6 separate regions of the Homo sapiens genome follow, and regions 1, 3, 4, 5 and 6 are each reported to be linked to region 2. The links are microRNA targets in miRTarBase. Many come from high-throughput screens and were not tested one by one. Region 2 holds a microRNA gene; each other region holds the end of a gene's coding sequence.

Region 1 (4,075 bases), not on the chromosome of region 2:
AGTCTGGAAAGTTCAAGTCTGAACTGAGATTCTGCTTCACCCTCTAACTGGTTTACAGGAATGACCTGGATTTTATTGCAGCCAGTCAACCCTTGAGCTTCTCAAATGTTAAAATATTATTTATGAACTAGAGTTGTATCCCATTTTCTGTGTTTTAAACTATTCAAATACTCTTGTTTTTCTAGTCTTTAAGGAAAAGTCATTGCATTTCCAAAATTATTTTCTTACTCTTGATATTTCTGTTATTTTTTAAAGTTCCCAGATCTAACATTTTTACTGTTGTTACTTCTTTCTTTTTACAGGTTTATCAACTTATGAGGAAATGCTGGGAATTCCAACCATCCAATCGGACAAGCTTTCAGAACCTTATTGAAGGATTTGAAGCACTTTTAAAATAAGAAGCATGAATAACATTTAAATTCCACAGATTATCAAGTCCTTCTCCTGCAACAAATGCCCAAGTCATTTTTTAAAAATTTCTAATGAAAGAAGTTTGTGTTCTGTCCAAAAAGTCACTGAACTCATACTTCAGTACATATACATGTATAAGGCACACTGTAGTGCTTAATATGTGTAAGGACTTCCTCTTTAAATTTGGTACCAGTAACTTAGTGACACATAATGACAACCAAAATATTTGAAAGCACTTAAGCACTCCTCCTTGTGGAAAGAATATACCACCATTTCATCTGGCTAGTTCACCATCACAACTGCATTACCAAAAGGGGATTTTTGAAAACGAGGAGTTGACCAAAATAATATCTGAAGATGATTGCTTTTCCCTGCTGCCAGCTGATCTGAAATGTTTTGCTGGCACATTAATCATAGATAAAGAAAGATTGATGGACTTAGCCCTCAAATTTCAGTATCTATACAGTACTAGACCATGCATTCTTAAAATATTAGATACCAGGTAGTATATATTGTTTCTGTACAAAAATGACTGTATTCTCTCACCAGTAGGACTTAAACTTTGTTTCTCCAGTGGCTTAGCTCCTGTTCCTTTGGGTGATCACTAGCACCCATTTTTGAGAAAGCTGGTTCTACATGGGGGGATAGCTGTGGAATAGATAATTTGCTGCATGTTAATTCTCAAGAACTAAGCCTGTGCCAGTGCTTTCCTAAGCAGTATACCTTTAATCAGAACTCATTCCCAGAACCTGGATGCTATTACACATGCTTTTAAGAAACGTCAATGTATATCCTTTTATAACTCTACCACTTTGGGGCAAGCTATTCCAGCACTGGTTTTGAATGCTGTATGCAACCAGTCTGAATACCACATACGCTGCACTGTTCTTAGAGGGTTTCCATACTTACCACCGATCTACAAGGGTTGATCCCTGTTTTTACCATCAATCATCACCCTGTGGTGCAACACTTGAAAGACCCGGCTAGAGGCACTATGGACTTCAGGATCCACTAGACAGTTTTCAGTTTGCTTGGAGGTAGCTGGGTAATCAAAAATGTTTAGTCATTGATTCAATGTGAACGATTACGGTCTTTATGACCAAGAGTCTGAAAATCTTTTTGTTATGCTGTTTAGTATTCGTTTGATATTGTTACTTTTCACCTGTTGAGCCCAAATTCAGGATTGGTTCAGTGGCAGCAATGAAGTTGCCATTTAAATTTGTTCATAGCCTACATCACCAAGGTCTCTGTGTCAAACCTGTGGCCACTCTATATGCACTTTGTTTACTCTTTATACAAATAAATATACTAAAGACTTTACATGCATATGCCTTTTAATATTAAGATTTCATTTTCAAAGCATTTCAAACAATTTGCTTACATAGAAAAATAACAGTATAGTTTTGGGGGGAGGAAGGGGTGGGTTACGGTCCTTACTACTAACAAACAAACAAACACCACTTGATTTGCACTTCTTCACTGTTGTGCCCAGTGATTGATAACGGGGCACAGGCCAGTATGGATGGCATGTCCACTGTGCTGTAGTCCAGACACCTTTGTTTGTTTGTTTTAGTTCCTTCAACCTCTTCCTGCTTTGACTGACTGACTTTTTGCAGCTCTGTTGCAAAATTCACCATCTTTCCTTTCTTCTGTTTGTTTGTTTGTTTGTACTATAGTGGAGGTGTGACTAAGCATTGAAGAGGCTGAATGCAACAGGAAAATGGGAAAGAGAAGTGCAGGGCCTGAAAAACCCATTAGTCATCTGCTATATCACTGAATGATGCCTAATTCTTATCAGTTACTTATAGGTAGTATACTTAGAAATTACCTTAAACTTTCTAGCTGTCAGTCATTTTCCAACAGAAGCTAGTATATGCAATAAATTAGACCAAGTGAAATTCTTTACAAAGCATACAACATATGTACCAATTCTAGACTTCATAATTAAAACAGGATATCCACATCATAGTTAAAAATAACAAGTCCCCAAAGTGACGAGATATTTAATGATCTGATTTCAAAAAGCCCCGGATTGAGATCCCAAATTCCCTATCAATTAATTACAGTCTTATAACATAAACAAACTTAGAAATTTCTAGATGGCAAAAGGTTTCTCATGCATTTAATACCAAGGTCTTCAAGAAATGGTGATGTCAAAAGTCATCATAGTCCATAAAGATAAAACTTCTTTCACAAGTAAATTGGGTTAAATAACTGATTTTTCACCCTAACACACTATCAAAAAGAGTGAGAGAGAAAGCAGAGAGTGAGGTATAGCTTATTAGCTCAAAATGGTTATAAATACTGTGACTCCTTAAGACTCCATCAGAAAGTGCAGTATTGACTGCTTTACTATACTATATTGTGGAAATAATAGGGCATTTAGTGATCAAAATAGGCCCCATTCTAGTCATTAGATCATTACTAGTCTACGCTATGAAATGAGCACAGAAACCCATGTTCCTTTCCACTTACAAGTCTGTCTAAAGGCTAAAGGTCTGTCTTTAGGTGAATTGAAAGGAATAGTTGCTATTAGAATTAGTGCTATTAGATCAGGGATCAGCAAACTATATATAAATGGCCAGATACTTGAAATTTTAGGCCATATGGTCTTTGTAGGCCATACAGTCTCTGTTGAAGCTAATCAGTTCTGCCCTTGTAGCGTAAGAGTGCCACAGACAACACGTAAATGAATGAGCATGGCAACGTCCCAATAAAAGTTTATTTATGGACACTGAAATCTGAATTTCATATAAATTTCATGTCATAAGTTTTCTTTTTTCCTCCAACCATTTAAAAATGTAAACATTAGTCTTAGCTTGCAGGCAGCACAAAAGCGGGTGGTAGACCAAATGTGGACCCAGGGTGTAGTTTGCCAAACCCTTTTATTAGATCACCAAAGTTACTTTTCTTAAAATACCTTCTATTTTTCACAGAAGGTATAAATGGTAAACAACATCTTAAAGCATCGGTAGTAGTGGATACCTTGGATATCACTGTCACTCTCTTACCGGGTTTAATTTTGCATGGCTGGTGTGGGCGTAATTGAGTGTGCATGTAGAGCATCTTTATAATATTACCATCAGCACATTTGGTACTTGCACCCTTGTAGTTCTAGGAAAAGTCCTAAAAATCTATAAATGCAATTACTTCTAGGGAAAGTAAATTGAAATGCACATTGGCTTATAAGAAACTCATTCTTCTAAGGCTCAGGAAACAACACTGTTTCCCATTTATTGCTTCAAACTTCTTTTATATATGGTGTCAGAATTATTCCCAGTCCTAAATCAAGGAATATTGGAACATTGTTAGTTTCTCCAATGGATTGTAAGTTAGCACACTGATTAAGATGCATCTGACTCTAGTGGAAAATGTCCTCAATTGATGTCTCTTCTTATTGCTATTTTTTATTTGGCATTTCTGCCTGCTGCACAACACAGTTCCTTCTGGGAAACTATAAACCCGTATTTAAAGGATATGGCTAGTTTGAATGAAGTTAAGGCAGCGATGAACAGCAGAGATACTGCAGAGAACCTTAGGGGGTTATTAGGAGAGAGCTTAACTCAGTATACTCGCTTCTTTTTTAAGTAAGTTTCCATGTAATATGCTCCTGTGCCCTGAGAATGCTGGTCAACACATTCCACTGAACCACCTTCTGGGGCAG
Region 2 (4,090 bases):
ATAAAATGGATTTGTTAATTAATAAAGAGTTCCATAAATCAACAAGAAAAAAAGTCCAACAACCCAATAGAGTAATGAGTAAATAATATTAATAGTTAATCCCAAAATAAGGTATAATTTTTAACCTATTACATTGAAAAAAATCAAAAAGTTTGATAACTCTGTGGAGAAACTTGTACCGTTATAACCCTGCTTGGTGGGAATGTAAATTAGAACCACCTTTATGGAGGGAACTTTATATCTGTTAATATTACAATCAACATATCCGATGACTCAGCAAGTTCCCTTCTAGGAATTTATCCTATTGATATACTCACATGTAGGCAAAATAATATACATGTGTGTACATATATGTGTGTATACCGTATACAAATACACTGAATTTTTAAATAATAGTAAAAGACTGGAAAAACCTAAATATCATTAGGAAATTGAACAAATCAATAACAGCATATCTATATGTTAAAATGCTATATGGCCATTAAAAATGAAGCAATTTAAAATATACTGATATGATCAATTTCAAGATGCGTTATTACGTCAAAAAGCAAAAGGCAGTATTTTTAGAGATGCTTATTAAAATATATAGGGTAGATTGATATAATATCTGGGATTTGTTTTCTAGTATTTTAGCAAAAAAGAGGGAAGAAGGAGAGAGGACCAGAGGGAGGAGGAAGAAGAAAATATAGAGAAAGCATGTGTTGTGAAGCCTTAATGATTGCAGAATCTGCACTGATGGATTAATGGAGGTTCTTTATACTGTTCTCTCTCCTTTACATATGTTTATGAATTTTCTTAATAAAAAGCTGATAAAGCAAGATATAGAATAGTATATGGAGGGTGAATTGTATAGCATATAATTATATTTCAATAAAGCTATTATTTTGTAAAAAGAATGCTATATAGAGTTTGCTACCTTTGGAAAGATAAATGTATCCTACATTACATACAATATAAACAAAGATATATTGTAATACGTACAATAAAAACAAACAAAAAAACCCTAAAAAAAATGGCAGCCTCTACTGAGGTTAACACTGAGAGACAGAAGTGGAAATGGTGACTCACTTCCTTGTGTATCCTTCTAATGTCTTAGAAGTCTGTATTATGTGTTTGTATTATCTATCCAAAAATTTGAATCAGAAAATTTATAACTGATGGGGAAGCATTTCACAGCATCTCAAGAATCACAGCAAAAATGTTTTAGATTTGGTAAACGTGGTGTCCCTCAATGAAATGGCTGCAATCAAAGGTTCTCAAATCAGTGACTCCAGAGAGCAAAGCAAGGACTGAGGGACTTGGTGGCTGCTCTCATGGGAAATGCAACACTGCCAGTCACTGGTGCGGCCACTGGGAGTCTGCACTGACTGGACACCCTCTGGTAGAGCCTTGGCCCCAAGGCGACTGGTGATTCCCTTCACTCATTCAGCCCCACAGAAACATATAAAATAGTTGCTCAAACCAGTGTATAACATGGCTACATTTTCAAATTGGCACTCGCTCTACTCCACCAATCAACAATATTGAAATTGAAATCAAAAGTGAAAAGTAAAGTCAGTTGCTCTCTCCCAAAGGGATTCTGATGCCTGTGAAAAGACCTGCTGACCTGCTGGCTCACTCCAGCAAAAAGCACAAGAAGCCAGCTCTGCGGAAAGTAGGGGAAAGGGCATCTATTGCTCTGTGGGGCAAGGGTTGTTACCAGCTGACCTTTGAGAGCCCATGAGTACAGCCAACTACACACATATTGGTCTTGGGGCTTGTTTCATTACTTGGAAAAATTCCCTTTAAAGGTTAATGTCAAGAAATAAACTCTGTTACATTGAGTCCCATGACTCAAGTGGACTTTGAAAAAACATCTCTGGAATGCTCTTTTCTCTGAGTATCAGCCTCCCATTTAAACTCCGTCTGAACTGAGGGCTTCCAAAAAGGTATATCGCTGATCTGCAGGCCAGTAACATACTCTGTTCAGTGTTATGCAAGGAGAGTATGTTTTTTGTCAACCCAGAACTCAAAGGCAGGGCTAACACCCATGTATCATAAAGACTGCCTCATACACTAACATTCAACTATTCAACTGAGAGGGGGCTCAAGGGGCTTTCTGAGTACCTATAATGTTCTATTTCTTGATCTGGGTGATGGCTATACAGGGTTGCTTGTGTGTGTAAATTAAACTGTAAGCTTATAATTTGAGCCTTCTTCTGTATGTATGTCACCTCTATTAAAAGCTGTATTTATAAAAACTCCATTACAGATCTACTGTGGTTCTTTAATACTCTCCTATGACCTGTTCCATGCCTCAACTCCTCTTTCCTGTCTTTCTAATATACCTCAGTGTGAAGAGTTCTACTTTATACACCTTGTATTTCAGAAAAGGTTCAATTTTTTCCAAACGAATCTTGCAATGCTTCAAAACATGTTAATACAACTTTGTATGTCACCAGCTCCACCCCTTTTTGTGCCTGGGACTCTGGCTGGCCTTGGCTGTAGCAAGCTCTCTGTGCTTTGATAGCCCTGTACAATGCTGCTTGAACTCCATGCCACAAGGCAACACTGTAAAGAAGCTGAAAGCAGAGAGAATATCGAATATTGCAAGTCGAGCATTTTACCTGCAGTTATGTGCAAGGATGCTCAGACCTTTTCCTCACATTTCAGTGGACACATGGCAATAATGATGGTTAGAGAGACTATGACATGGGTTGTAATTGTATCCTGTTTCCACAGGTGAATGGTTTATCATTCATTATCATCCAGTGCCTTCTTAAAAATAAAGCATATATTCCTCCCCCTCCCCCAACACACACCCCTCCTGTTCTGTAAAGTGTGACTAGAGTAAAGGGAAGCTTTCCTAAGGATATGTAGTTGTGTAAGAGTCAACAGGTGTTGCACTGCCAAGATGATGTATATGAATGACACACAGCTTTCACCGGGTTGAGTAAGGCCTTACCTCATTCAACGCGCACATCCGAGCAATGGAGCCAATGTTGTTGGTGATGGTGACCAATGTGGCCCGGGCGAGGTCTTCCTTGCTGATGGAATCTCGCTTTTCTTTACTCATCATGTTGCCAAAGCTATGTTGGAAATATCAGCGAGAGTGTTCAAAATCGTCCTCAGGCAGGGCCCATCCTTCCACCAAAGTATTGTGGAAGGCTCTACGAGTAACTGTTCAAACTCAAGTGATCCAATTTTGCTACTATGGTTTATAAGCAGACAGAATTATAGTATGCATGGCTGACCGCCCTTTTCTTAATAGGGACAAAGTAGCATGTCCATTAATGGGGGGGGAAAATTAATGCCTCTAGATATCTGGACAAGAATGGAACAGGTGAAACTATTGCAGTTTTCTAGAACCTTCTTTCAAAGTTGCCTTATTTTAAGAACAAGCATCAAGAGCTAAACATCTCAGTGCTTCATCAAGGGCAGGAGATCAAGTCTGAGCTCTGATACAACAGGTATCTGCACCAGGCTGGTGGACTGACATTTTAAAACAACTTAGTGAATGGCCAGGGTGGAGAGGCTGCCTTGTGTTTAATCACTACTGCTCCTAGCTACTTAATCTCTACCTTGATGCTACAGCAGATCCTTGAAGGCCAAATCGTTCATAGTCTCCTCCGTAAATGTCCTTCACCAGTTTATCAACATTGGTGCTGTCGCCTTTAGCTGCCATTTCCAGAGCTTCTTCAAAGGTCTCACAACCAGTCAGCAAGCAACATAGGCCTAGGAATGTTCCACCTCCAAGACTGAAGGAATAATAAGGTTTATTTTTAAATTTTACTTTAAGATATGCCCATCCAAGTCCCCAACTACGTCAAGACTATTAATATGGGTGAATAAAAGCAGACGAACAAAGGGGCACTTGAATTAAAGTGCTAGGGTGCAACAGAGCTTTAGGGTAGACTGGATATGAAAAGAGGGCAGAGACTAAAAATAAACATCAAGGAAAATTTGCCCCTAAATTTGAGAACAAAACCAAAGAAAGACTCTCACTGATTTCTGTTGTGAGACCTTCAACTAGCCACTAACCTGAGTGCTTTGTTCAGCCTTCCCACCTATGAAATGGGGCCAAATCATGATCTCTTCTATTTGGGTGGTC
Region 3 (4,090 bases), not on the chromosome of region 2:
CATTTGCCCAAACCTGGCCTTTGGTTGACGTCCATAGCTTCAATTCGTATAAGGAAAATATGGGGGCTACAGAAGGTGGGGTCATAGACCGTGGGGTTGCCCAAGCCAGGGGCGCTGTTGTCCATGTTTCAGCAAAACAGATGTATTTTTCTCTGGGCGACAAAACTCATCCTAAATGCGACTGAGAGCCCTGTAATGTCCCAGGACAGCTTGACCGCTGGGGTGGGTCCCCTTCCACTGTCCCAGGCTGGGGCGCTGCGTCTGGGCTGCCCTTGGCACCATCCACTCCTCTCTCGCCCACAGTCAAGTACGACCTTAACAACCCGGCCAAGCACGCCAAGCTGGACTTCCTCAACAACCTGGCCACGGGCCTGGTGTTCATCATCGTGGTAGTCAACATCTTCATCACGGCCTTCGGGGTCCAGAAGCCCTTGATGGACATGGCACCCCAGCAGTAGGACACCCAGGTGAGCTGGGAGATGGGGCGCGAGGCCTGCAGTCCTGGGGTTGCTCGCTGTTGGAGGCTCTTGCAGTGTGGTGAGTCCCTGGCCGGCCAGCCTTGGACACCTTCCTAGGCCATGGGCATCCTCGTCCACACCTACAAGGCCAATGCCTGGCCACTGCCTTGAGGCCAGCCCTGCCACTGGTGCTGGCCACCTGGGGTCCTGTGGTCACAGTGTTTAGATGGAATGTGTGTAGGAGCCACCATTTGAACATCCTGGAGAACTCACTTAAACGTAAGATTTCTATACATTCAGAATGTCTGTCCGATAAAAAAAAAAAGATTTCTGGGTCAGGCGCGGTGGCTCATGCCGGTAATCCCAGCACTTTGGGAGGCTGAGGCGGGCAGATCACTTGAGGTCAGGAGTTCGAGACCAGCCTCGCCAACAGGGTGAAACCCCGTCTCTACTAAAAATACAAAAAGTGGCCAGGCATGGTGGCACATCCCTGTAGTCCCAGCTACTCAGGAGGCTGAGGCAGGAGAATCGCTTGAACCCAGGAGGCAGAGGTTGCAGTGAGCTAAGATCGTACTACTGCACTCCAGCCTGAGCGACAGAGTGAGACTCTGTCTCAAAAAACACCCAAAACCCAAAGATTTCCGGCTTCTCTTGATAAGTCAGGGGCTCTGCACCCCTTATCAGCTCCACTTAGCAGGTGAAGCTTCCTCCCAGCCCTCGTCTGAGAAAAAGGGACCTTGGTATGACCGCCTGCCTGACATGCCCACCTCACTGTGCCACTCTGACCAGGACGGTGGGATTCAGGATCTTGTCACGTGGAGCCCTTGTGACTCTTCAAGTCTGCCCCTTGCCGGGCCTCGCAGAATCTGTTAGCTGCCTGCCTTAGGCTGGACCCTGGCTGTGTGCAGGATGCAGACTGAGGCTGTCTCTACAGGACGAGGCACCCAGTGTAGGAAGACTTCTCACACCACATACAGCCTCTCCCTGTGTCCTTGCTCAGAGAGGGTGAGCGTCTGCCCAGTGACACAGCCTGGGAGCAGGATCCACAGGAAGGCCTGGGATGCAGCCATGGCCAGGGCCACATGGTGCACACACTACAGTCCATGCAGCCAGGCCAGGGCCACACACCACAGTCCCCGCGACCTTAGGCCTAGGGGTCACCCCTCCGGTTTGTAGCAGAGGTGGAGGTGAGTTGCTAAGGGAGGGGTGGGCACTCCTGGCAGGTGGCCATCTCTCCACCAGTGGTGGCCCATGGCAGAGTAGACAGGAGCAGTGCTCTTGGGGCAGAGCGCCTGTGTGTCAAGGATATATAAAAATTTCCCCAGGCCAGGCACGGTGGCTCACACCTGTAATCCCAGCACTTTGGGTGGCTGAGGCAAGCGGATCACCTGAGGTCGGGAGCTTGAGACCAGCCTGACCAACATGGAGATACCGTGTCTCTGCTAAAAATACAAAATTAGCCAGGCGTGATGGCGCATGCCTGTAATCCCAGCTACTCAGGAGGGTGAGGCAGGAGAATCGCTTGAACCTGGAAGGTGGAGATTGCAGTGAACTGAGATCACGCCATTGCACTCCAGCCTGGGCAACAGTATGAGACTCCATCTCGGGAAAAAAAAAAAATTCCCCAAGAGGGCATAGTGAGGATGAGGTGGGGCGCTGGGGCCAGCAGCTGGGTTGGGAGCACCCTGCATCCACCTGGCCTCACCCCTCCCCACACGGGGGCCAACGAGTGACCGCTGCTCGTAGTGGCCCATGGCCTCTCAAGCTCCCCTACCACACCCAAGGCCATTCCCCCAGTGGGATCACGCCAGCCCCCAATGTCCCGGCCGTGGAGCCTGAAGTCACCCTCCTGAAAGGACCTGGATCTGGGCGGCCCCATGTGGGGTCCGAGTCACTGTCCAGATGCTGCCTCCAGTTTGTAGTTAAGTTGTCCTCTTCCAGAACACCTAGATGTCAGCTGCTCCCTGGCTTGGGCATGTGGCCAGGCCATTTATTAATCACCTGCTGTGTGTGCTGAATGCAGTCCCTAACTCTCCCAAGCATGAGTTATCTGCCTGCCGGGAAGAGGGTGCTGCGTCTGTGGGCCACGTGGGGACCCAGCAGTGGACCTTAAAGCTGTCCTCAGAGGCTCGGAGGCCAAAGCTGCTGTGTGTCCTGCGTGGAGCAGTCAGAGAGGTCTCAGGCTTCGTGGGTGGCTATGGTCACAGCTGCCCAACCCGAGCCCCCCATGCTGGGCCAGGCCTCTAAGTCCTGGCAGTAACCCAGCCATGCTATATTCATTCCATTTTCAGAGGGGAAACTGAGGCATGGAGTACTTTGACACCTCTCATGTCAGAATCAGGCTCTTCTCCTTCCTGAGTCCGGGTGTGCAAATGGCCCTGACACTCGGGGCTTGTCACAGCCTGGCTCAGAGCCTCTCCTCTCCCTCCTTCCAGGCTCAGAGCCTCTCCTCTCCCTCCTTCCAGGCTCAGAGCCTCTCCTCTCCCCCCTTCCCAGGCTCAGACCCTCTCCTCTTCCTCCTTCCAGGCTCAGACCCTCTCCTCTCCCTCCTTCCAGGCTCAGACCCTCTCCTCTCCCTCCTTCCAGGCTCAGACCCTCTCCTCTCCCTCCTTCCAGGCTCAGAGCCTCTCCTCTCCCTCCTTCCAGGCTCAGAGCCTCTCCTCTGTCTCCTTTCCAGGACCCTGGATGTTGCCTGCCCTGCAACTCAGCTGCCCGACCCCAGGAGTCGCCATACCTGTGAGGTGTCCACCTCCCTGCACATGGCACTACCCAGACTGCCAGAGCCCAGGCTGGCCTCATCTGCACCATGTCCCCGGACCAGCCCTTGCTCTGACTGCGGCCAAGCACCACGCAGGAGGCCACTCTTGTCTCTCAGCAGCTGTTCCCAGGAGGCAGCTCCCTCCTGGCACATGGGGGCTGGCCACAATAGCCCAGAGGGTCAGAACTGGACAGCTGCAGAGACCTGTGCCCAGAGAAGGGTCTCGACCCACTCAAGGACACACAGCAGGTCCGTGGATGGGCTGGATGAGTGACCAGGGCCAGCCTCTGTCTCAGGACATTCCAGAAGGACAAGGAGATGTCTCTCCCTCTCCCAAAGCACCAGCGTCCCTGCCTCCCGTGGGCCCTGTCCGGGTTGCCCTGGTGACCCCAGCCTCTGTCCACTTCCTAACCCAGGGACCCTGCACAGCCAGAACTGCCTTTGGCCCTACGGATGGCCACTGGCTCTGGTCTTAAGTGCCTGGGCTTGGTGGCCATCAAGAGGGAGCCAGTCAGGCCTGTGAGGGCCGTAGACCTTGTATATACCCTGCACCAGCAGTGACCGGGCAGAGCCCAACCCCCTCCACGGGGGTCCCAGCACCCACTTTTCTAATCATGAATGAACAATAAAGCCCACGCTCTTTGTCAGGCTCCACATGCCATCTCCCTGTTCCCGGGGCTGGACCGGCCTTGGCTTCCCTGTCCCCTTTCCAGCTGCCCTGCAGGGGCGTCAGAAGCACACGGTTCTGGCCAGGGCCGCCTTCTCCAGAATCTTGGCTTGGGGAGCTCTTTGGCTCCTGACATCTCCTGGGGTGAGGTTTGGAGGCACAGAGGTGGAAGTCTGAGGTCACTGGCATCAGCAGCCCCTAGTGACC
Region 4 (4,090 bases), not on the chromosome of region 2:
GTCCCCGGGGCCTTCAGGAGCTTCCCACTCCACCTCTCCTCAAATTCCTCGGCAGACCCAAGAGAACTGGGTTTTCACGGAATTAAGGGAATATGACTGATCTAGTTAACATAGTTGAAGATAGTGTGTGTAATTATTCTCTAGTAATGTGCTCCATAATTAGTACAGATAAGAAAGAACAAATCTTTAAGGAGTACACACACAGAAACCCAGGAGTGCTCAGTATGTAGCTTGTCACTAAAAAGAGGGAGGGGGAAGTCACAGCTGGAAGTTTATTCAACTCTCCCTTTGTCTCCTAGATCTCAGCTATGTACTCATCAGTAAATAAACCTGGACAGTTAGTGAATAAATCGGGGCAGTCGCTTACAGTTCCGGAGTCCACCTACACCTCCATTCAAGGGGACCCACAGAGGTCACCCTCCTCCTGTAATGATCTCTATGCTACTGTTAAAGACTTCGAAAAAACTCCAAACAGCACACTTCCACCAGCAGGGAGGCCCAGCGAGGAGCCAGAGCCTGATTATGAAGCGATACAGACTCTCAACAGAGAGGAAGAAAAGGCCACCCTGGGGACCAATGGCCACCACGGTCTCGTCCCAAAGGAGAACGACTACGAGAGCATAAGTGACTTGCAGCAAGGCAGAGATATTACCAGGCTCTAGCAACCCAGAAGACAACCCTGGGTAGCCTGTGATCAGTGTCTGGAGACGTTTCTTCTGTGGAAGAGAAGAAGTGACACAAACCTATACTTCATATGCTGCTTTAGTCACCTGAAGATGGTTGGAGAGGCCCTGTCGACTGTTCTCCCAGTTGTTCAGTTTCTGAGACAGAGAGGTACGGACTAGGCTGCACCTGAGTGTGCCCCTGCCTGCCAGATGGACAGGTACACCCAAGCACATCTCCCTGCTGCACCCTCACCACCCACAAAAGATCCCAGCTGTCAGTGGTCTCATCTCATTAGTGAGGAAAGCCAAGCTGTATGGAAAAGCTGCACTCACCAAGGACCACAATGCCCCCGGCCTAAAGTACTGCCATTCAGAAAAGCAGGTTTTTCTTCCTCTCTTTCCTTTTCTCTGTCTGCTACTGACTTTAAGGCTTTTTCCCCCTTGAAATGTCCAGATTCCTGTGGTTCATCCCAAGGAAATTTTCACACAAAGCTTGGCCTTTGCCCTCAATATAGGTGTTTTAGGATGGTGACAAACCATGGCTGCTGCTTTCTGCCCAGCTCGCCAGTCCTCCCCAAAGAGTTGCGCATCAGCACCTGGGGATCTGGACCCTGCGGGTGAAGGGATGGGGAGGGACGTCCCTGGAGTCTCTTCTGTCTTTGTTCCTTCTTATTTTGGCATTCGATATCAGCAGCCTCTCCCCAAAGTACTTGAAGTCAGTTTTAGATGCTTTATTTTATTTTTCTAGTCAAAAACGTGTTTCCCCCAGTGTTTGAAAACTCGTCCGAATCTTTTCAGTATTTTCCATGAGTATTGTGGTACTTCTAGACTTGTTTAAGCCCAGAACTCATTCCTTCAAAACAGAGAGCCTTAATCTTTATGTTGGGACACAGACCACATATTTGGACGGCAGCCATGCATCCATCGCTGAAGGGCTGTGGACATGAATGTGTATTTCCCATGGTCTCCGCTGCCCACACCAACAGTGTGGCATCTCATAAGTTAACTGCTACCCTAAGGTAATCTAAGATTAAAATGTAAACATTTATTTTTGTTATGTAAGTTTATAAGATGTTTTATGTTCAATGCCTAATTTCTCAAAAGTGCCAGAAAAAAATGTATATTAGCTATTTTGATTTTATGTACAATGATTTATACTCTCCTTTTGAAAAGATACCATAAAGCACATAAGCTAGATCACTACAAGGAGCTGTTATCTTTTTTCTAATCAAGTGTTTAAAACACTGATGGTTTTTAAAGACTCACCTTTTTAAATGGTACTTGGAGCTCCTGATTCAAATTACCTAGACCCCCTAGAGAAATAAATGGAATATACATAAATAATCATTTTCAGTGGTTTATGGTGGGCAATATTGCAATATTTGAAATGGTAAAAATGGAAAGAAGAACAAAATATGATGAGAGGTGGCTGTGAATTATAAACCTCATAAAAGTGTCATAATTCCATTAAGGTTTAATTATATTTTTTCAGAAAACAGTGATGAATTCTGTAGTCCAGTGCTTGCCAATGCAAATTGCCTATTGGAATCTTCTTCCTATATTTTACAAACATCAGTGGCTGAAATAGCTCAGAGTAAGAGCTCAGCCTGGTTTGAATTTAATCATCTCTTTAGATCTTATAAGGCCAGCATTAGGAAACTTGTTCACTTTTCATTTTCAAAGGAGCCTAGTTGAAGTGCTATTATGAGTGTGGGCTATGGAAAGACAGCTTTTCCTACACTGATAAAGAAAAAAAATGAGGAAATTATTTCATCCCCTTGTGACATCTGTGACTTTTTGGATTTAATAATCTTGCTGTTTTTCCTCTTTATGACAAAGAATATAATTGGGAGGATGAAGTGTCTTAAAAATTGTAGAGACCAGCTCACTGGAATGTTTTTCCATCCCTGTATTCATGGCTTGACTTTGTGACTGCTCTACACTGCATGTCTGACATTGCAGAGTGAGCTATGTTGAGGTAAACTGGTTGGTTGTCATTATTTTGCAATCAGCCTGGTCTCTCCCATGAAGATGTCGTGTGCATAAGCACAATCATCACTGATTAGAAGATCACAGCAGAATACCCTTGGATTAGAGAGAAGTTCGTACCTTGCATTTCTCTGAATTCTAGTCTCTCATAAGCACTGCTTTGCTGGATGATTTTCACTGCTTTGTGTTAATGACTTTGAGCGATCTCTCACATGATGGGGTTCTTTAGTACATGGTAACAGCCATGTCATCTTACACACCTAGCATTGTGAATGCTGTAGTGACATCCTTTATAGGCACCTTACAGCTCAAAACTTTTGTTTCATTTCATGCCTTACTTATCAAAAAGGCAGGAAAGTAGGTATGATCTCTAAAGTAAAAAAAAAAAAAAAAAAAAAACTTTTTATAGAAAGCTCATAAATAATCATGTCATTTTGCAATTTTGTTACCAAAATTTCCCCCAAGAGTTTTCAAATATTAGTTCTGCAATGTGGCTATGAAATATGCACTGAAATATACCTTTTAATTTGAGAACCAGTGGTTAGAATAAGCTGTGATATAAAGTATTTTCAGTGTACTTTTAAAGGAACTATAAGGCCCTCCAGCATAAACGCTAAAAGAATAGATGGTAGCACAGGCCATGAGGGCTGGGGGAGAGAAGCAGAGTGAACCTTAGAAAGATGGCTCAGCTATTTGGAGCACTGGATATTTTACTGAAGTTATTTACTGAGGCACCATCACTGTTTTGACTGTACAGTATAGTTTTTCATAAATTTCATCACATTTACTTTGTTCAGAATCTGGGCTTGAATCTTTGAGTTGGACAAAAGCCTATGGTTTCTTTTAAAAAGTTTCATCTTGAGCTAATGCTACAGTTTAAATAAAATGTATGAAAGGTAGTTATCAAAAACAATTTGTATATTTAAAATTCTATTTTGACATCCATTTTTTACAGCGAATTATAGCAGGTTATGTGAAATTTAAAAATAAATTTTAGGAAATTTTTTTATCTTGTAAGTAAGAATTATAAATCTATCTCAGTTAAAAGTAGGATCTTTGTTTTTATTCAGATATTTTGAAAGTTTAGAAGCATTTTGTATGCTACTTTGGTATTTCTTAAGTATAGTCAGCAGGAAAGGGTAACCTGTTTTATGCAAAATTTTTTTAATTTGTCAAATGTTTTTAGTGTGTCTACTTTCTGAAATAGTCTCAATATCCTGTCTGTATCCTAGGCAGATAACTACACAAGAACAAAACGCTATATAGAAAAGAAAATATTTGAGGAAATCTTAAATTCCATAAGAAAGTAATTCTTGCAAGAATGTTGGCTACATATTTTTTTTTCTGTCCTGAATAAATTACATCATTAGGTCTGTTGAAGCTTTTGAAGCTACCACTATTCTTTCTGGGATAAAGGCTAATTACTGATTTATCTG
Region 5 (4,088 bases), not on the chromosome of region 2:
AGAGCAGTTTGGACAACCATCCCATCAAAACCTGCATCTTCTGTGTTTAGTGTTTGTATCCATACGTGAACACCTGGATTTTTCATCCTGACTGTATAGTTCTTGAAAATAAGGCTACAGTGATGCCTAACATATTTGTCAGACTATTGTCTTAACAGTGTATTAACTTGGGATCTTGCTTTCTTCTGCCTTCTCCTTTAGAGTTGCTGGAATTGTGGCCGTAAAGCGAGTGAAACCTGCAGTGGCTGTAACACAGCCCGATACTGTGGCTCATTTTGCCAGCACAAAGACTGGGAGAAGCACCATCACATCTGTGGACAGACCCTGCAGGCCCAGCAGCAGGGAGACACACCTGCAGTCAGCTCCTCTGTCACGCCCAACAGCGGGGCTGGGAGCCCGATGGACACACCACCAGCAGCCACTCCGAGGTCAACCACCCCGGGAACCCCTTCCACCATAGAGACAACCCCTCGCTAGACGTGAACTCAGAACTGTCGGAGGAAAGACAACACAACCAACGCGAAACCAATTCCTCATCCTCAGATGCTCAAAGTTGTTTTTTTTGTTTGTTTGTTTATTAGATGAATTATCCTATTTCAGTACTTCAGCAAGAGAGAACCTAACTGTATCTTGAGGTGGTAGTAAAACACAGAGGGCCAGTAACGGGTCGTAATGACTTATTGTGGATAACAAAGATATCTTTTCTTTAGAGAACTGAAAAGAGAGCAGAGAATATAACATGAAATGATAGATTTGACCTCCTCCCTGTTATTTTCAAGTAGCTGGGATTTTAAACTAGATGACCTCATTAACCGATGCTTTACCAAACAGCAAACCAAGAGATTGCTAATTGCTGTTGAAAGCAAAAATGCTAATATTAAAAGTCACAATGTTCTTTATATACAATAATGGAAAAAAAAAAAAGAGGAAAACCCTCAAGGGCATGAGCATTGGATACAGCAGTAGACATTTTAACAAGAAGATGAATGGCGTCCGTGGGTTGCTAACTGAACTTTGAAGACCCGCTACAAAACGCGCAGATGTGCAGCAGATTGGAAGGAGACACAGATGTTCGGTTTTTTTCCTGTTTCTGAAAAGAAATAATAATATCCAGGTCAACAGAATGAAAAATGAAAGATGATTTGCAATGGGATGTATGAATACAGCAGCAAGAAAAAAAAATGCCATAATACAAAAGGCTCCATATATATATATATATATATATATATACACACACACACACGCACATATACACACACACACACACACACACACACACACACACACACACACACACACACACACAAGTAAGAGACTCAGCCTGCAGTTAATTAGCATTCTGGCAGTTTTGACATCAGCCAGCTGCCCTAAATAACCCTTCAACGTTTCTTCACTTTTGCAAGGTTCCACAGAGTAAGACATTGGGTCTATTCCAGCTCATTCATTTTATATTGAAAAAAATAATTTTAAAAATGGTGGCTTCAGCTCCAGCCCCTTTCCAAAATTTTTCAACCCCACCCTGTTTGGATTTTTAATTAAAAACTAGTAGTTCTCTTGGTGTTAAAACACTTCTGTCCTGTGAGGTTTCCCAATGGTGTTTTTCTTGTAAATGTGTTGGACAAATGTGAAGATGCATTGTAGTTTAACCATATGCCCACATTTAGTCTCTTTATTCCTAGTTGGTGAGAAACCTGTATCTTTCTATGCTGCTTTTATATCTGTATGTATTAGTGATATTTCTCTAGTAGTTAAAAAAAAAAAAAGGAAAAAAAGACTCTTTTTGGTTGTCCTCAAGAAAAGAAAAGAAGAAAAGCTATCTTTCGGAGCTGCTATTTCACTCTCTTATAGGATTTTTTTTTTTCCTGAAAACCAGCATGCTTCACGGAATGCTAACATATTGGTGTTTTTGTAAGAGGGATGTACATAAATGTATTTTGCACTGTCACAATGACTCCCTAGGCATGCTTTTTGTTTTTTTTTTTTTTTTTTTGAGCAAATTCTTTTTAAATATGCTAGAGCCATTTCATCAAGTTTAGCTGTAGCATAGAGTAGTCGTGGAATTTTTCTTTTTTTTTTTTTTAAATCATTATTAGGGACTTTTTTAAAAAAATAAAATAACAAGATATCCTACTTTAAAAAAAAAGGACAGTGCATGCATATTGCTGTAAGGTCGTTTAAGTATTTCTAATTTTACAAAAGTAAAAATCATTAGAGCTCCAAATGCTGAGGTGTAGATTGACAGCTTTAACACTGCTGAATGCCAGGTTATACAGTATTCTTACAAAAAGGGAAGTCAGCCAAAGACTGATCTGATGGACCAAAATCGGAATTTTGAAAAGCACCAGTACTACTTTCCAAATGATCAGCAGGTTAAACATGTTCAGCAAGGTATAGTATGAATCCATTAACCCTTCGTTGTCCAGGGTCCAGACCAGAACTACTTGTTAGTTTTGAAAACAGTAGCCCAGGATGTGGTTGTGTGCTTTAGGAAAGTCAGCAGTGCTGCAGGCTGTGTAGACAACCAAAGTTTACAAGGCTGGGAAGACACTTCTCCAAATACATATACACCAGGCATTTCTTTAAAATCAAAAACAATCCATTAGCTTTGGGGCGGGGGGTGGGGGGAGGGTTAAATGTAGGCCTTGGAAACAGTTTTAAGTGGCTTTTAAGTATCTGCATAGAGGCAATCCTAAGGTTTGCTTTAAGTCTCTTAAATCTAACATTTTTAAAAGCATTTCTTCCCTGTATTTTCATATACAAGTTGGTTTTAATTTTGTTTGGGTGGTGTTATTTTTTTTAAATGACTTTTTAGTTTAGAAAGTTCTGATGAGCAAATAAATACATCTATCTACATGTTGGAAGTCCATCTGCCAGCACACCTGCTTAAAGTGAAATGAAAGCACATAACCAGGCTCTGAATGGGTTATATTTTATCATGGTGCTCCCAGAATCCTTTGACCTCACTCTGCTTTCTAGTCTGCTTGTGACACTGGACAGTCCTTTCTTACAGAGCTATTATATGTTCTAGGCTACGAAGGGTTAAATAATCCCAAAAATGAGGTATGTCATACCCACACGTCTTTATCTCTAGAAGCTGTGATGTATGTGAAACAGCACTGTTATTCTTAACACTAGTGTGTAAAATAAGGATTAGTACAGTACGTCTCATTACTTTTTAATTCAGGGCACCCTGAGTGAAAACAAATACAAAAAAAAATCCCTAACTCTGAGCTCTATCTCTGATTCCTCTTCCTCCTTCCCCTCTTCCTCCTCTTCCTCTCCTCCTGTTTTGCTACATTCTCCTCAGTGGCAAAAAGTTTCACTCTACCTCTGACAGCATGTATATTGCACCAGTAGCTAACAAAAACTGGTCTAGTCAAACCAAATGGGCACAAAAGAACCAGGATACCAAAAGTTAAGCTCATACAGCTGCAAACCATATCACTTCTTGGTAACAATGCAGACCTCATAAACCTAAAGAAGAGAAAGAAAAGAAAACTTTTGTTACTTTCCTTTTTTGCTTGTCACTTATATACAGGCTATGTGAGAATATAATTTGTAGGTATAACACATTAAGAAAAAGTTATCTTCATTGGATAGAATTGAATGGTGGTCGCTGATAGGAATAGGGCGTCCTCTAGCTCTTATCTCTGTCTCTTACTCTTTTCTCTTTCTCTTTTTCTCTGTCATGAGACTGTGTGTGACAGGGCCACCTGTCTTTTTTTTTTCTTAAATTTTTTTTTTTTTTATGTGTAGGTGCATGTCTTGGGGATTTAAAAATTTCAAGGCTGGTTTACTTATGCAAAGCATGCCTACGTCTGGAATACTTAGGGAAAGAAAGCGACTCCATGTTGTCCGAATTCCTCAAGGGACAGAAAAAAAATTGGAGACTGTTGAAATGCAGATTTGAAGTAATTTTTTTAAAATATTATTTTGGGTTCTGCGACATTGTGAAAAATTAAAGTTGTTGTGCAATACTTAATTCAGACATGTACCACAAGTTAATGGTAGACTAACACTGGGGGGTGGGGTCTAGGCATCATGCTTTTGTCAGCATACTCTTGAGCTTTTAAGTCTACTATGTCTGA
Region 6 (4,090 bases), not on the chromosome of region 2:
GCAACCTCTGCCTCGCAGGTTCAAGTGATTCTCCTGCCTCAGACTCCTGAGTAGCTGGGACCACAGGCGCGTGCCACCTCGCCCAGCTAATTTTTTGTATTTTTAGTAGAGACGGGGTTTCACCATGTTAGCCAGGATGGCCTCGATCTCCTGACCCCATAATCCGCCCGCCTCGGCCTCCCAAAGTGCTAGAATTACAGGCGTGAGCCACTGCACCCAGCCCAGAATATGTGAATAAAAGGTGAGATGACTGCTAAACTATCTATTCCACCCCACTACTGATGAACAGTAACCTTCACCAGAGCAATCTCAATGATGGAGGTAAACACACATAAAGGAGCAGAATGAACGTACTACTGCTGTAATCAGAAAATAAAGTACTATTTGTGGGTGGAAAATGAGGAGACAGTGAATGGACAACTGTAGTTGCCTTTTCTCTCATAGATGCTATCCTTTTATTAAGTGCAGAGCAGTTAACACATCAGTACATGAATGTGTCATTTACGTTTCTAGCAGACTTAACGTACTCAGATCTAAAGCATCTACTTTCTAATTTTGAGAGTTGCTATAGCAGACAACTCAGCTCTATAGATAGAATAAAAAGGCTTGTGTTTTCTATTACATATACCTGTCCAAGCTGTGATGTCTATCCCTTGAAAAGTGCTTCTGGGAACAATTCCTCAGATCCTACTGGTTTTGTGATTAAAACAAACAAATTTTCATTTTTAGTTTTGTGAGCTCCCTTGTTTTTGGTTACTAATTATTAGTCTGCCTCAAACAGGTATTCTGCACTTGGCAAAAATATAGTCTCTTTTTGACCCATTTCCTAATCACTGCTCTCAGTGACAATACCCTCGTGAAAGGCAGGAAAAATTTACACTGCTTTGTGTATATAACTCATTTGAGATGGTCACATTTCTCTTATCACAGATATGCCTAATCTAGCCTTTATACAAAAGGCTTGGCTGCTCAACTGTGCTAATAAAACTCTGGAGATTCCTCACTTCCAGTCATTTAAACCTTTACACATTTTCTATAGCCAGGCACAGTGCTGGGGATAAAAATCATATACCTTCATCCACTCAACTTCCCTCACCCTTTTTTTCCCCCGCAAAACAGAGTCTCACTCTGTCACCCAGGCTGGTGTGCAGTGGTGCGATCGTGGCTTACTGCAACCTCCACCTCCCAGGTTCAAGCGATTCTCCTGCCTCAGCCTCCCGAGTAGCTGGGAATAGAGGTGTACACCACCATGCCCAGCTAATTTTTGTATTTTTAGTAGAGACAGGGTTTCACCATGTTGGCCAGGCTGGTCTTGGATTCCTGACCTCATCATCCACCTGCCTTGAGCCTCCCAAAGTGCTGGGATTACAGGCCTGAGCCACCACGCCCAGTCTCCTTCACCCTTTTAAACCAAACTGAGATGTTTCTATTTTTTTTTTCAATAGTTTATGAGATGCTTCTAAATGGTACAAATATAAATTTCAGGAAGCAAAGATGTGACTGCTTAAATAACTAAGCCTACTTTTAAAACTTAGTTTTAAGAAACTAAGCTTAAATAAGGCAATCACTTATCACTTACAAGCTGATGAAATACTGAAGTCTTCTGCAAACCACACCCATAGCAATCTGGAAGTAGTCTGCAATACTATTGTTAAATGACCAGAGATGTCATAGGAGAATGTTGGAAGTAAACCTTACTTTAAACCATGTCTTTTACAATTTTTTCTGCCCAAGCTGGAAAGTGTTCACTTCCAAGATGCCTACCATTTAAAAACCCTCCTTCCATCAACCGCATAAACCTTCAAACTTGGTTTACAACTCTCAGCAACAATTTTTTTTTAACCTTTTTTTTTTTTTGAGATGGAGTTTTGCTCTTCTTGCCCAGGCTTGAGTGCAATGGCACGATCTCGGCTCACTGCAACCTCTGCCTCCTGGGTTCAAGCAATTCTCCTGCCTCAGCCTTCTGAGCAGCTGGGATTACAGGTGTGTGCCACCACGCCCGGCTAATTTTTTGTATTTTTAGTAGAGACGAGATTTCACCATGCTGGCCAGGCTGGTCTTGAACTCCCAACCTCAGGTGATCCACCTGCCCCAGCCTCCCAAAGTGCTGGGATTACAGGCATGAGCCACCATGCCCGGCCTAACCTATTTTATAGTTAATAGAGACGGGGTTTTACTATGTTGCCCAGACTGGTCTCGCACTCCTGGACTCAAGTGATCCTCCTGCCTTGGCCCCTGCCAAAGTGCTGGAATCCCAGCCATCAGTTACCATGCCTGGCCCCAGCAACAATTTTTAATTCCATATTTTATCTTGCACATAGTAAAGGTCTCTGTTAACCAGATGTTTAACGGCTTCCCTCGATTAATACTCAATACACCAATATCTAGGAGGGTCTTTCTCCCTTCATGAATATACAGTAGCGATATACATATAGACTTTAGAAAAAGTAATAATCTGACTCTTCTACCAAATATAAATGTGATTATAATCATATAATCCAGGCTTTCTCAGGGAACATTTTTCAGGGCTAATTTCTCAAAACTGTAACTAAATTATCCAAGACAAAGTCTTATATTCCATGAATACATTTCTCGAAATCAAGATTTGCAAATTCAACCATTAGACACTTTGTGGGAAACCAGCTCATGTTTAATTGTGACATTTTAAAATTGTACAGGTATTTTGACATCTGCCCCCCACATTTAGTCTCTCAAAATGACAGGAAAACAACCAATCACAGGTTTAATACATTGACCCCTTCAGTTCCTATATGCAGCACCCAATATTCCTTTGAAATATGAAATAGACCTGGCAGTGGCCAACAGTAAATTTCTGCCCGCTGCCTCCCACCACCAACGGAGTTGAAAAGTTCAGGTTTAGTGTTGTTGTAGTGGCACTTGTCCAGAATTGGTACCTCCCCATAGTTGGGGGACTTTAAATGTACCAATGAAAATAGCTTTTTCCCCTTCAAGGGGAAGAAAGAAAATCACTCCTCAAAACCCAGCAGATCTGGCTGTGAGGTCTTTCCTCCTATCTCATCTCTTCAGGCTTTTTTTTTTTTTTTTTTTTTTTTTTTTTTTTTGCAGTGGAGCAAGAGAGACCAAAACCTAACCTGAGTTACAAGAAACAAGACAGTAATGGCTATAAAGGGAGTGACCAGGAGCAACTGGGACACTCCTTTACCTCCCATATCCAATGTATGTGTTTCACAGAAAAACAACAAAATTAACAAATTCACAAAATACAACAGCTAGAATTACAAAATCCATTCATCCAAGGGTGGTAGAAGGCAGGATGGAAAGGTGGAAGGGTAAATGGCACAGGGAGAAAAACAAAGTGTTCCAATCAGTCCAGGCACAGGGACTGGCAAATGCTAGAAAATAGCTGCAGAAAAACCTGTGGTCCTTTCAGACTCACGGTGATGTTAAAAATCCACACACTGGTGTCAGGGAACATTCTGCCTTACGTGCACCAGAGACAAAAATTTCAATTCCTCAGAGAGAAGGGAATACGCAGAGGGCCCTTGGCAGAGCGGGTCCTGCCTTCCCTGGCAGGCGGGAGGTGAACAGGGAAAAGAGCTGCCACAGCTTCTTCCAATCCCGCCCATCCCCTTTGGATGGCAGGCAACTCAGTGACCTGCAGTAGCCTTCAGTTTGGCAGGCGACGGATGCGGTGAAGGGAACTTCTCTGCAGAAGTAGAGCTGCTCAGGGCCGACTGCAGGTAGACTGTCTTGTGGAAGAGTCTGTTGCTTAAGAAGACCACCAAGGAGAAGAGGCGCAACTGGAAGAGACTAAAAGGCAAGAAACCCAACTTGTTAGCTCCCCAGTTACTCAAAATTATTTCCGTTGTTTGACAACTTGACATTAAATTTAAAACTACACAGGGAAAGACAAGACAAATGAAACTTGATCAAGGAAATACAGATATTAGATACATGGATGGAACAGGCAACTAAAGAATACATTGGAGCCGGGCGTGGTGCCTCATACCTGTAATCCCAGCACTTTGGGAGGCTGAAGCAGGTGGATCACTTGAGAAAAAAATTAGCAGGGCATGGTAGCATGCGCCTGCAATCCCAGCTACCCAGG

The links. The annotated mature microRNA hsa-miR-107 reads AGCAGCAUUGUACAGGGCUAUCA and lies in region 2 at 2,504-2,526, opposite strand. An mRNA with a match to its seed (bases 2 to 7 or 8) in the 3' UTR can be bound and repressed. Matches are read on the target gene's strand: a 7mer-m8 pairs with bases 2 to 8, a 7mer-A1 pairs with bases 2 to 7 and ends in A, and an 8mer does both.
Region 1: miRTarBase lists JAK1 as a target of hsa-miR-107. Seed matches in the 3' UTR shown: 7mer-A1 at 1,077-1,083.
Region 3: miRTarBase lists NINJ1 as a target of hsa-miR-107. The part of its 3' UTR that is shown has no 7-base or 8-base seed match.
Region 4: miRTarBase lists PAG1 as a target of hsa-miR-107. Seed matches in the 3' UTR shown: 7mer-m8 at 755-761 and 7mer-A1 at 905-911.
Region 5: the mRNA of RUNX1T1 is a reported target of hsa-miR-107. Seed matches in the 3' UTR shown: 7mer-m8 at 1,704-1,710 and 7mer-A1 at 2,501-2,507.
Region 6: the mRNA of EI24 is a reported target of hsa-miR-107. Seed matches in the 3' UTR shown: 7mer-A1 at 2,773-2,779.

Annotation. Positions count from the first base shown.
Region 1 is chr1:64,830,885-64,834,959 of GRCh38, reverse strand. JAK1 (Janus kinase 1) reads left to right here. Exons shown (of 25, transcript NM_002227.4): 25 at 303-1,731. The coding sequence ends at 398. It overlaps RAVER2 (ribonucleoprotein, PTB binding 2), which reads right to left. Exons shown (of 12, transcript NM_001366165.2): 12 at 1,728-4,075. The coding sequence ends at 3,975. Among named protein-coding and RNA genes, the nearest start is that of RAVER2, 88 kb to the right of the region's middle.
Region 2 is chr10:89,590,253-89,594,342 of GRCh38, forward strand. MIR107 (microRNA 107) reads right to left here and starts at 2,575; the gene lies at 2,495-2,575. It overlaps PANK1 (pantothenate kinase 1), which reads right to left. Exons shown (of 7, transcript NM_148977.3): 4 at 3,561-3,737; 5 at 2,945-3,068.
Region 3 is chr9:93,121,276-93,125,365 of GRCh38, reverse strand. NINJ1 (ninjurin 1) reads left to right here. Exons shown (of 4, transcript NM_004148.4): 3 at 304-467; 4 at 3,136-3,870. The coding sequence ends at 458. Among named protein-coding and RNA genes, the nearest start is that of NINJ1, 11 kb to the left of the region's middle. RefSeq lists a silencer at 288-452.
Region 4 is chr8:80,973,116-80,977,205 of GRCh38, reverse strand. It overlaps PAG1 (phosphoprotein membrane anchor with glycosphingolipid microdomains 1), which reads left to right. Exons shown (of 9, transcript NM_018440.4): 9 at 300-4,090. The coding sequence ends at 662. Among named protein-coding and RNA genes, the nearest start is that of ZNF704, 100 kb to the right of the region's middle.
Region 5 is chr8:91,956,631-91,960,718 of GRCh38, reverse strand. It overlaps RUNX1T1 (RUNX1 partner transcriptional co-repressor 1), which reads left to right. Exons shown (of 12, transcript NM_175634.3): 12 at 202-4,088. The coding sequence ends at 477. Among named protein-coding and RNA genes, the nearest start is that of RUNX1T1, 140 kb to the left of the region's middle.
Region 6 is chr11:125,583,223-125,587,312 of GRCh38, reverse strand. It overlaps EI24 (EI24 autophagy associated transmembrane protein), which reads right to left. Exons shown (of 11, transcript NM_004879.5): 11 at 2,629-3,792. The coding sequence ends at 3,630. The region is part of intron 1 of STT3A-AS1 (STT3A antisense RNA 1); the gene reads left to right. Among named protein-coding and RNA genes, the nearest start is that of STT3A-AS1, 7.3 kb to the left of the region's middle.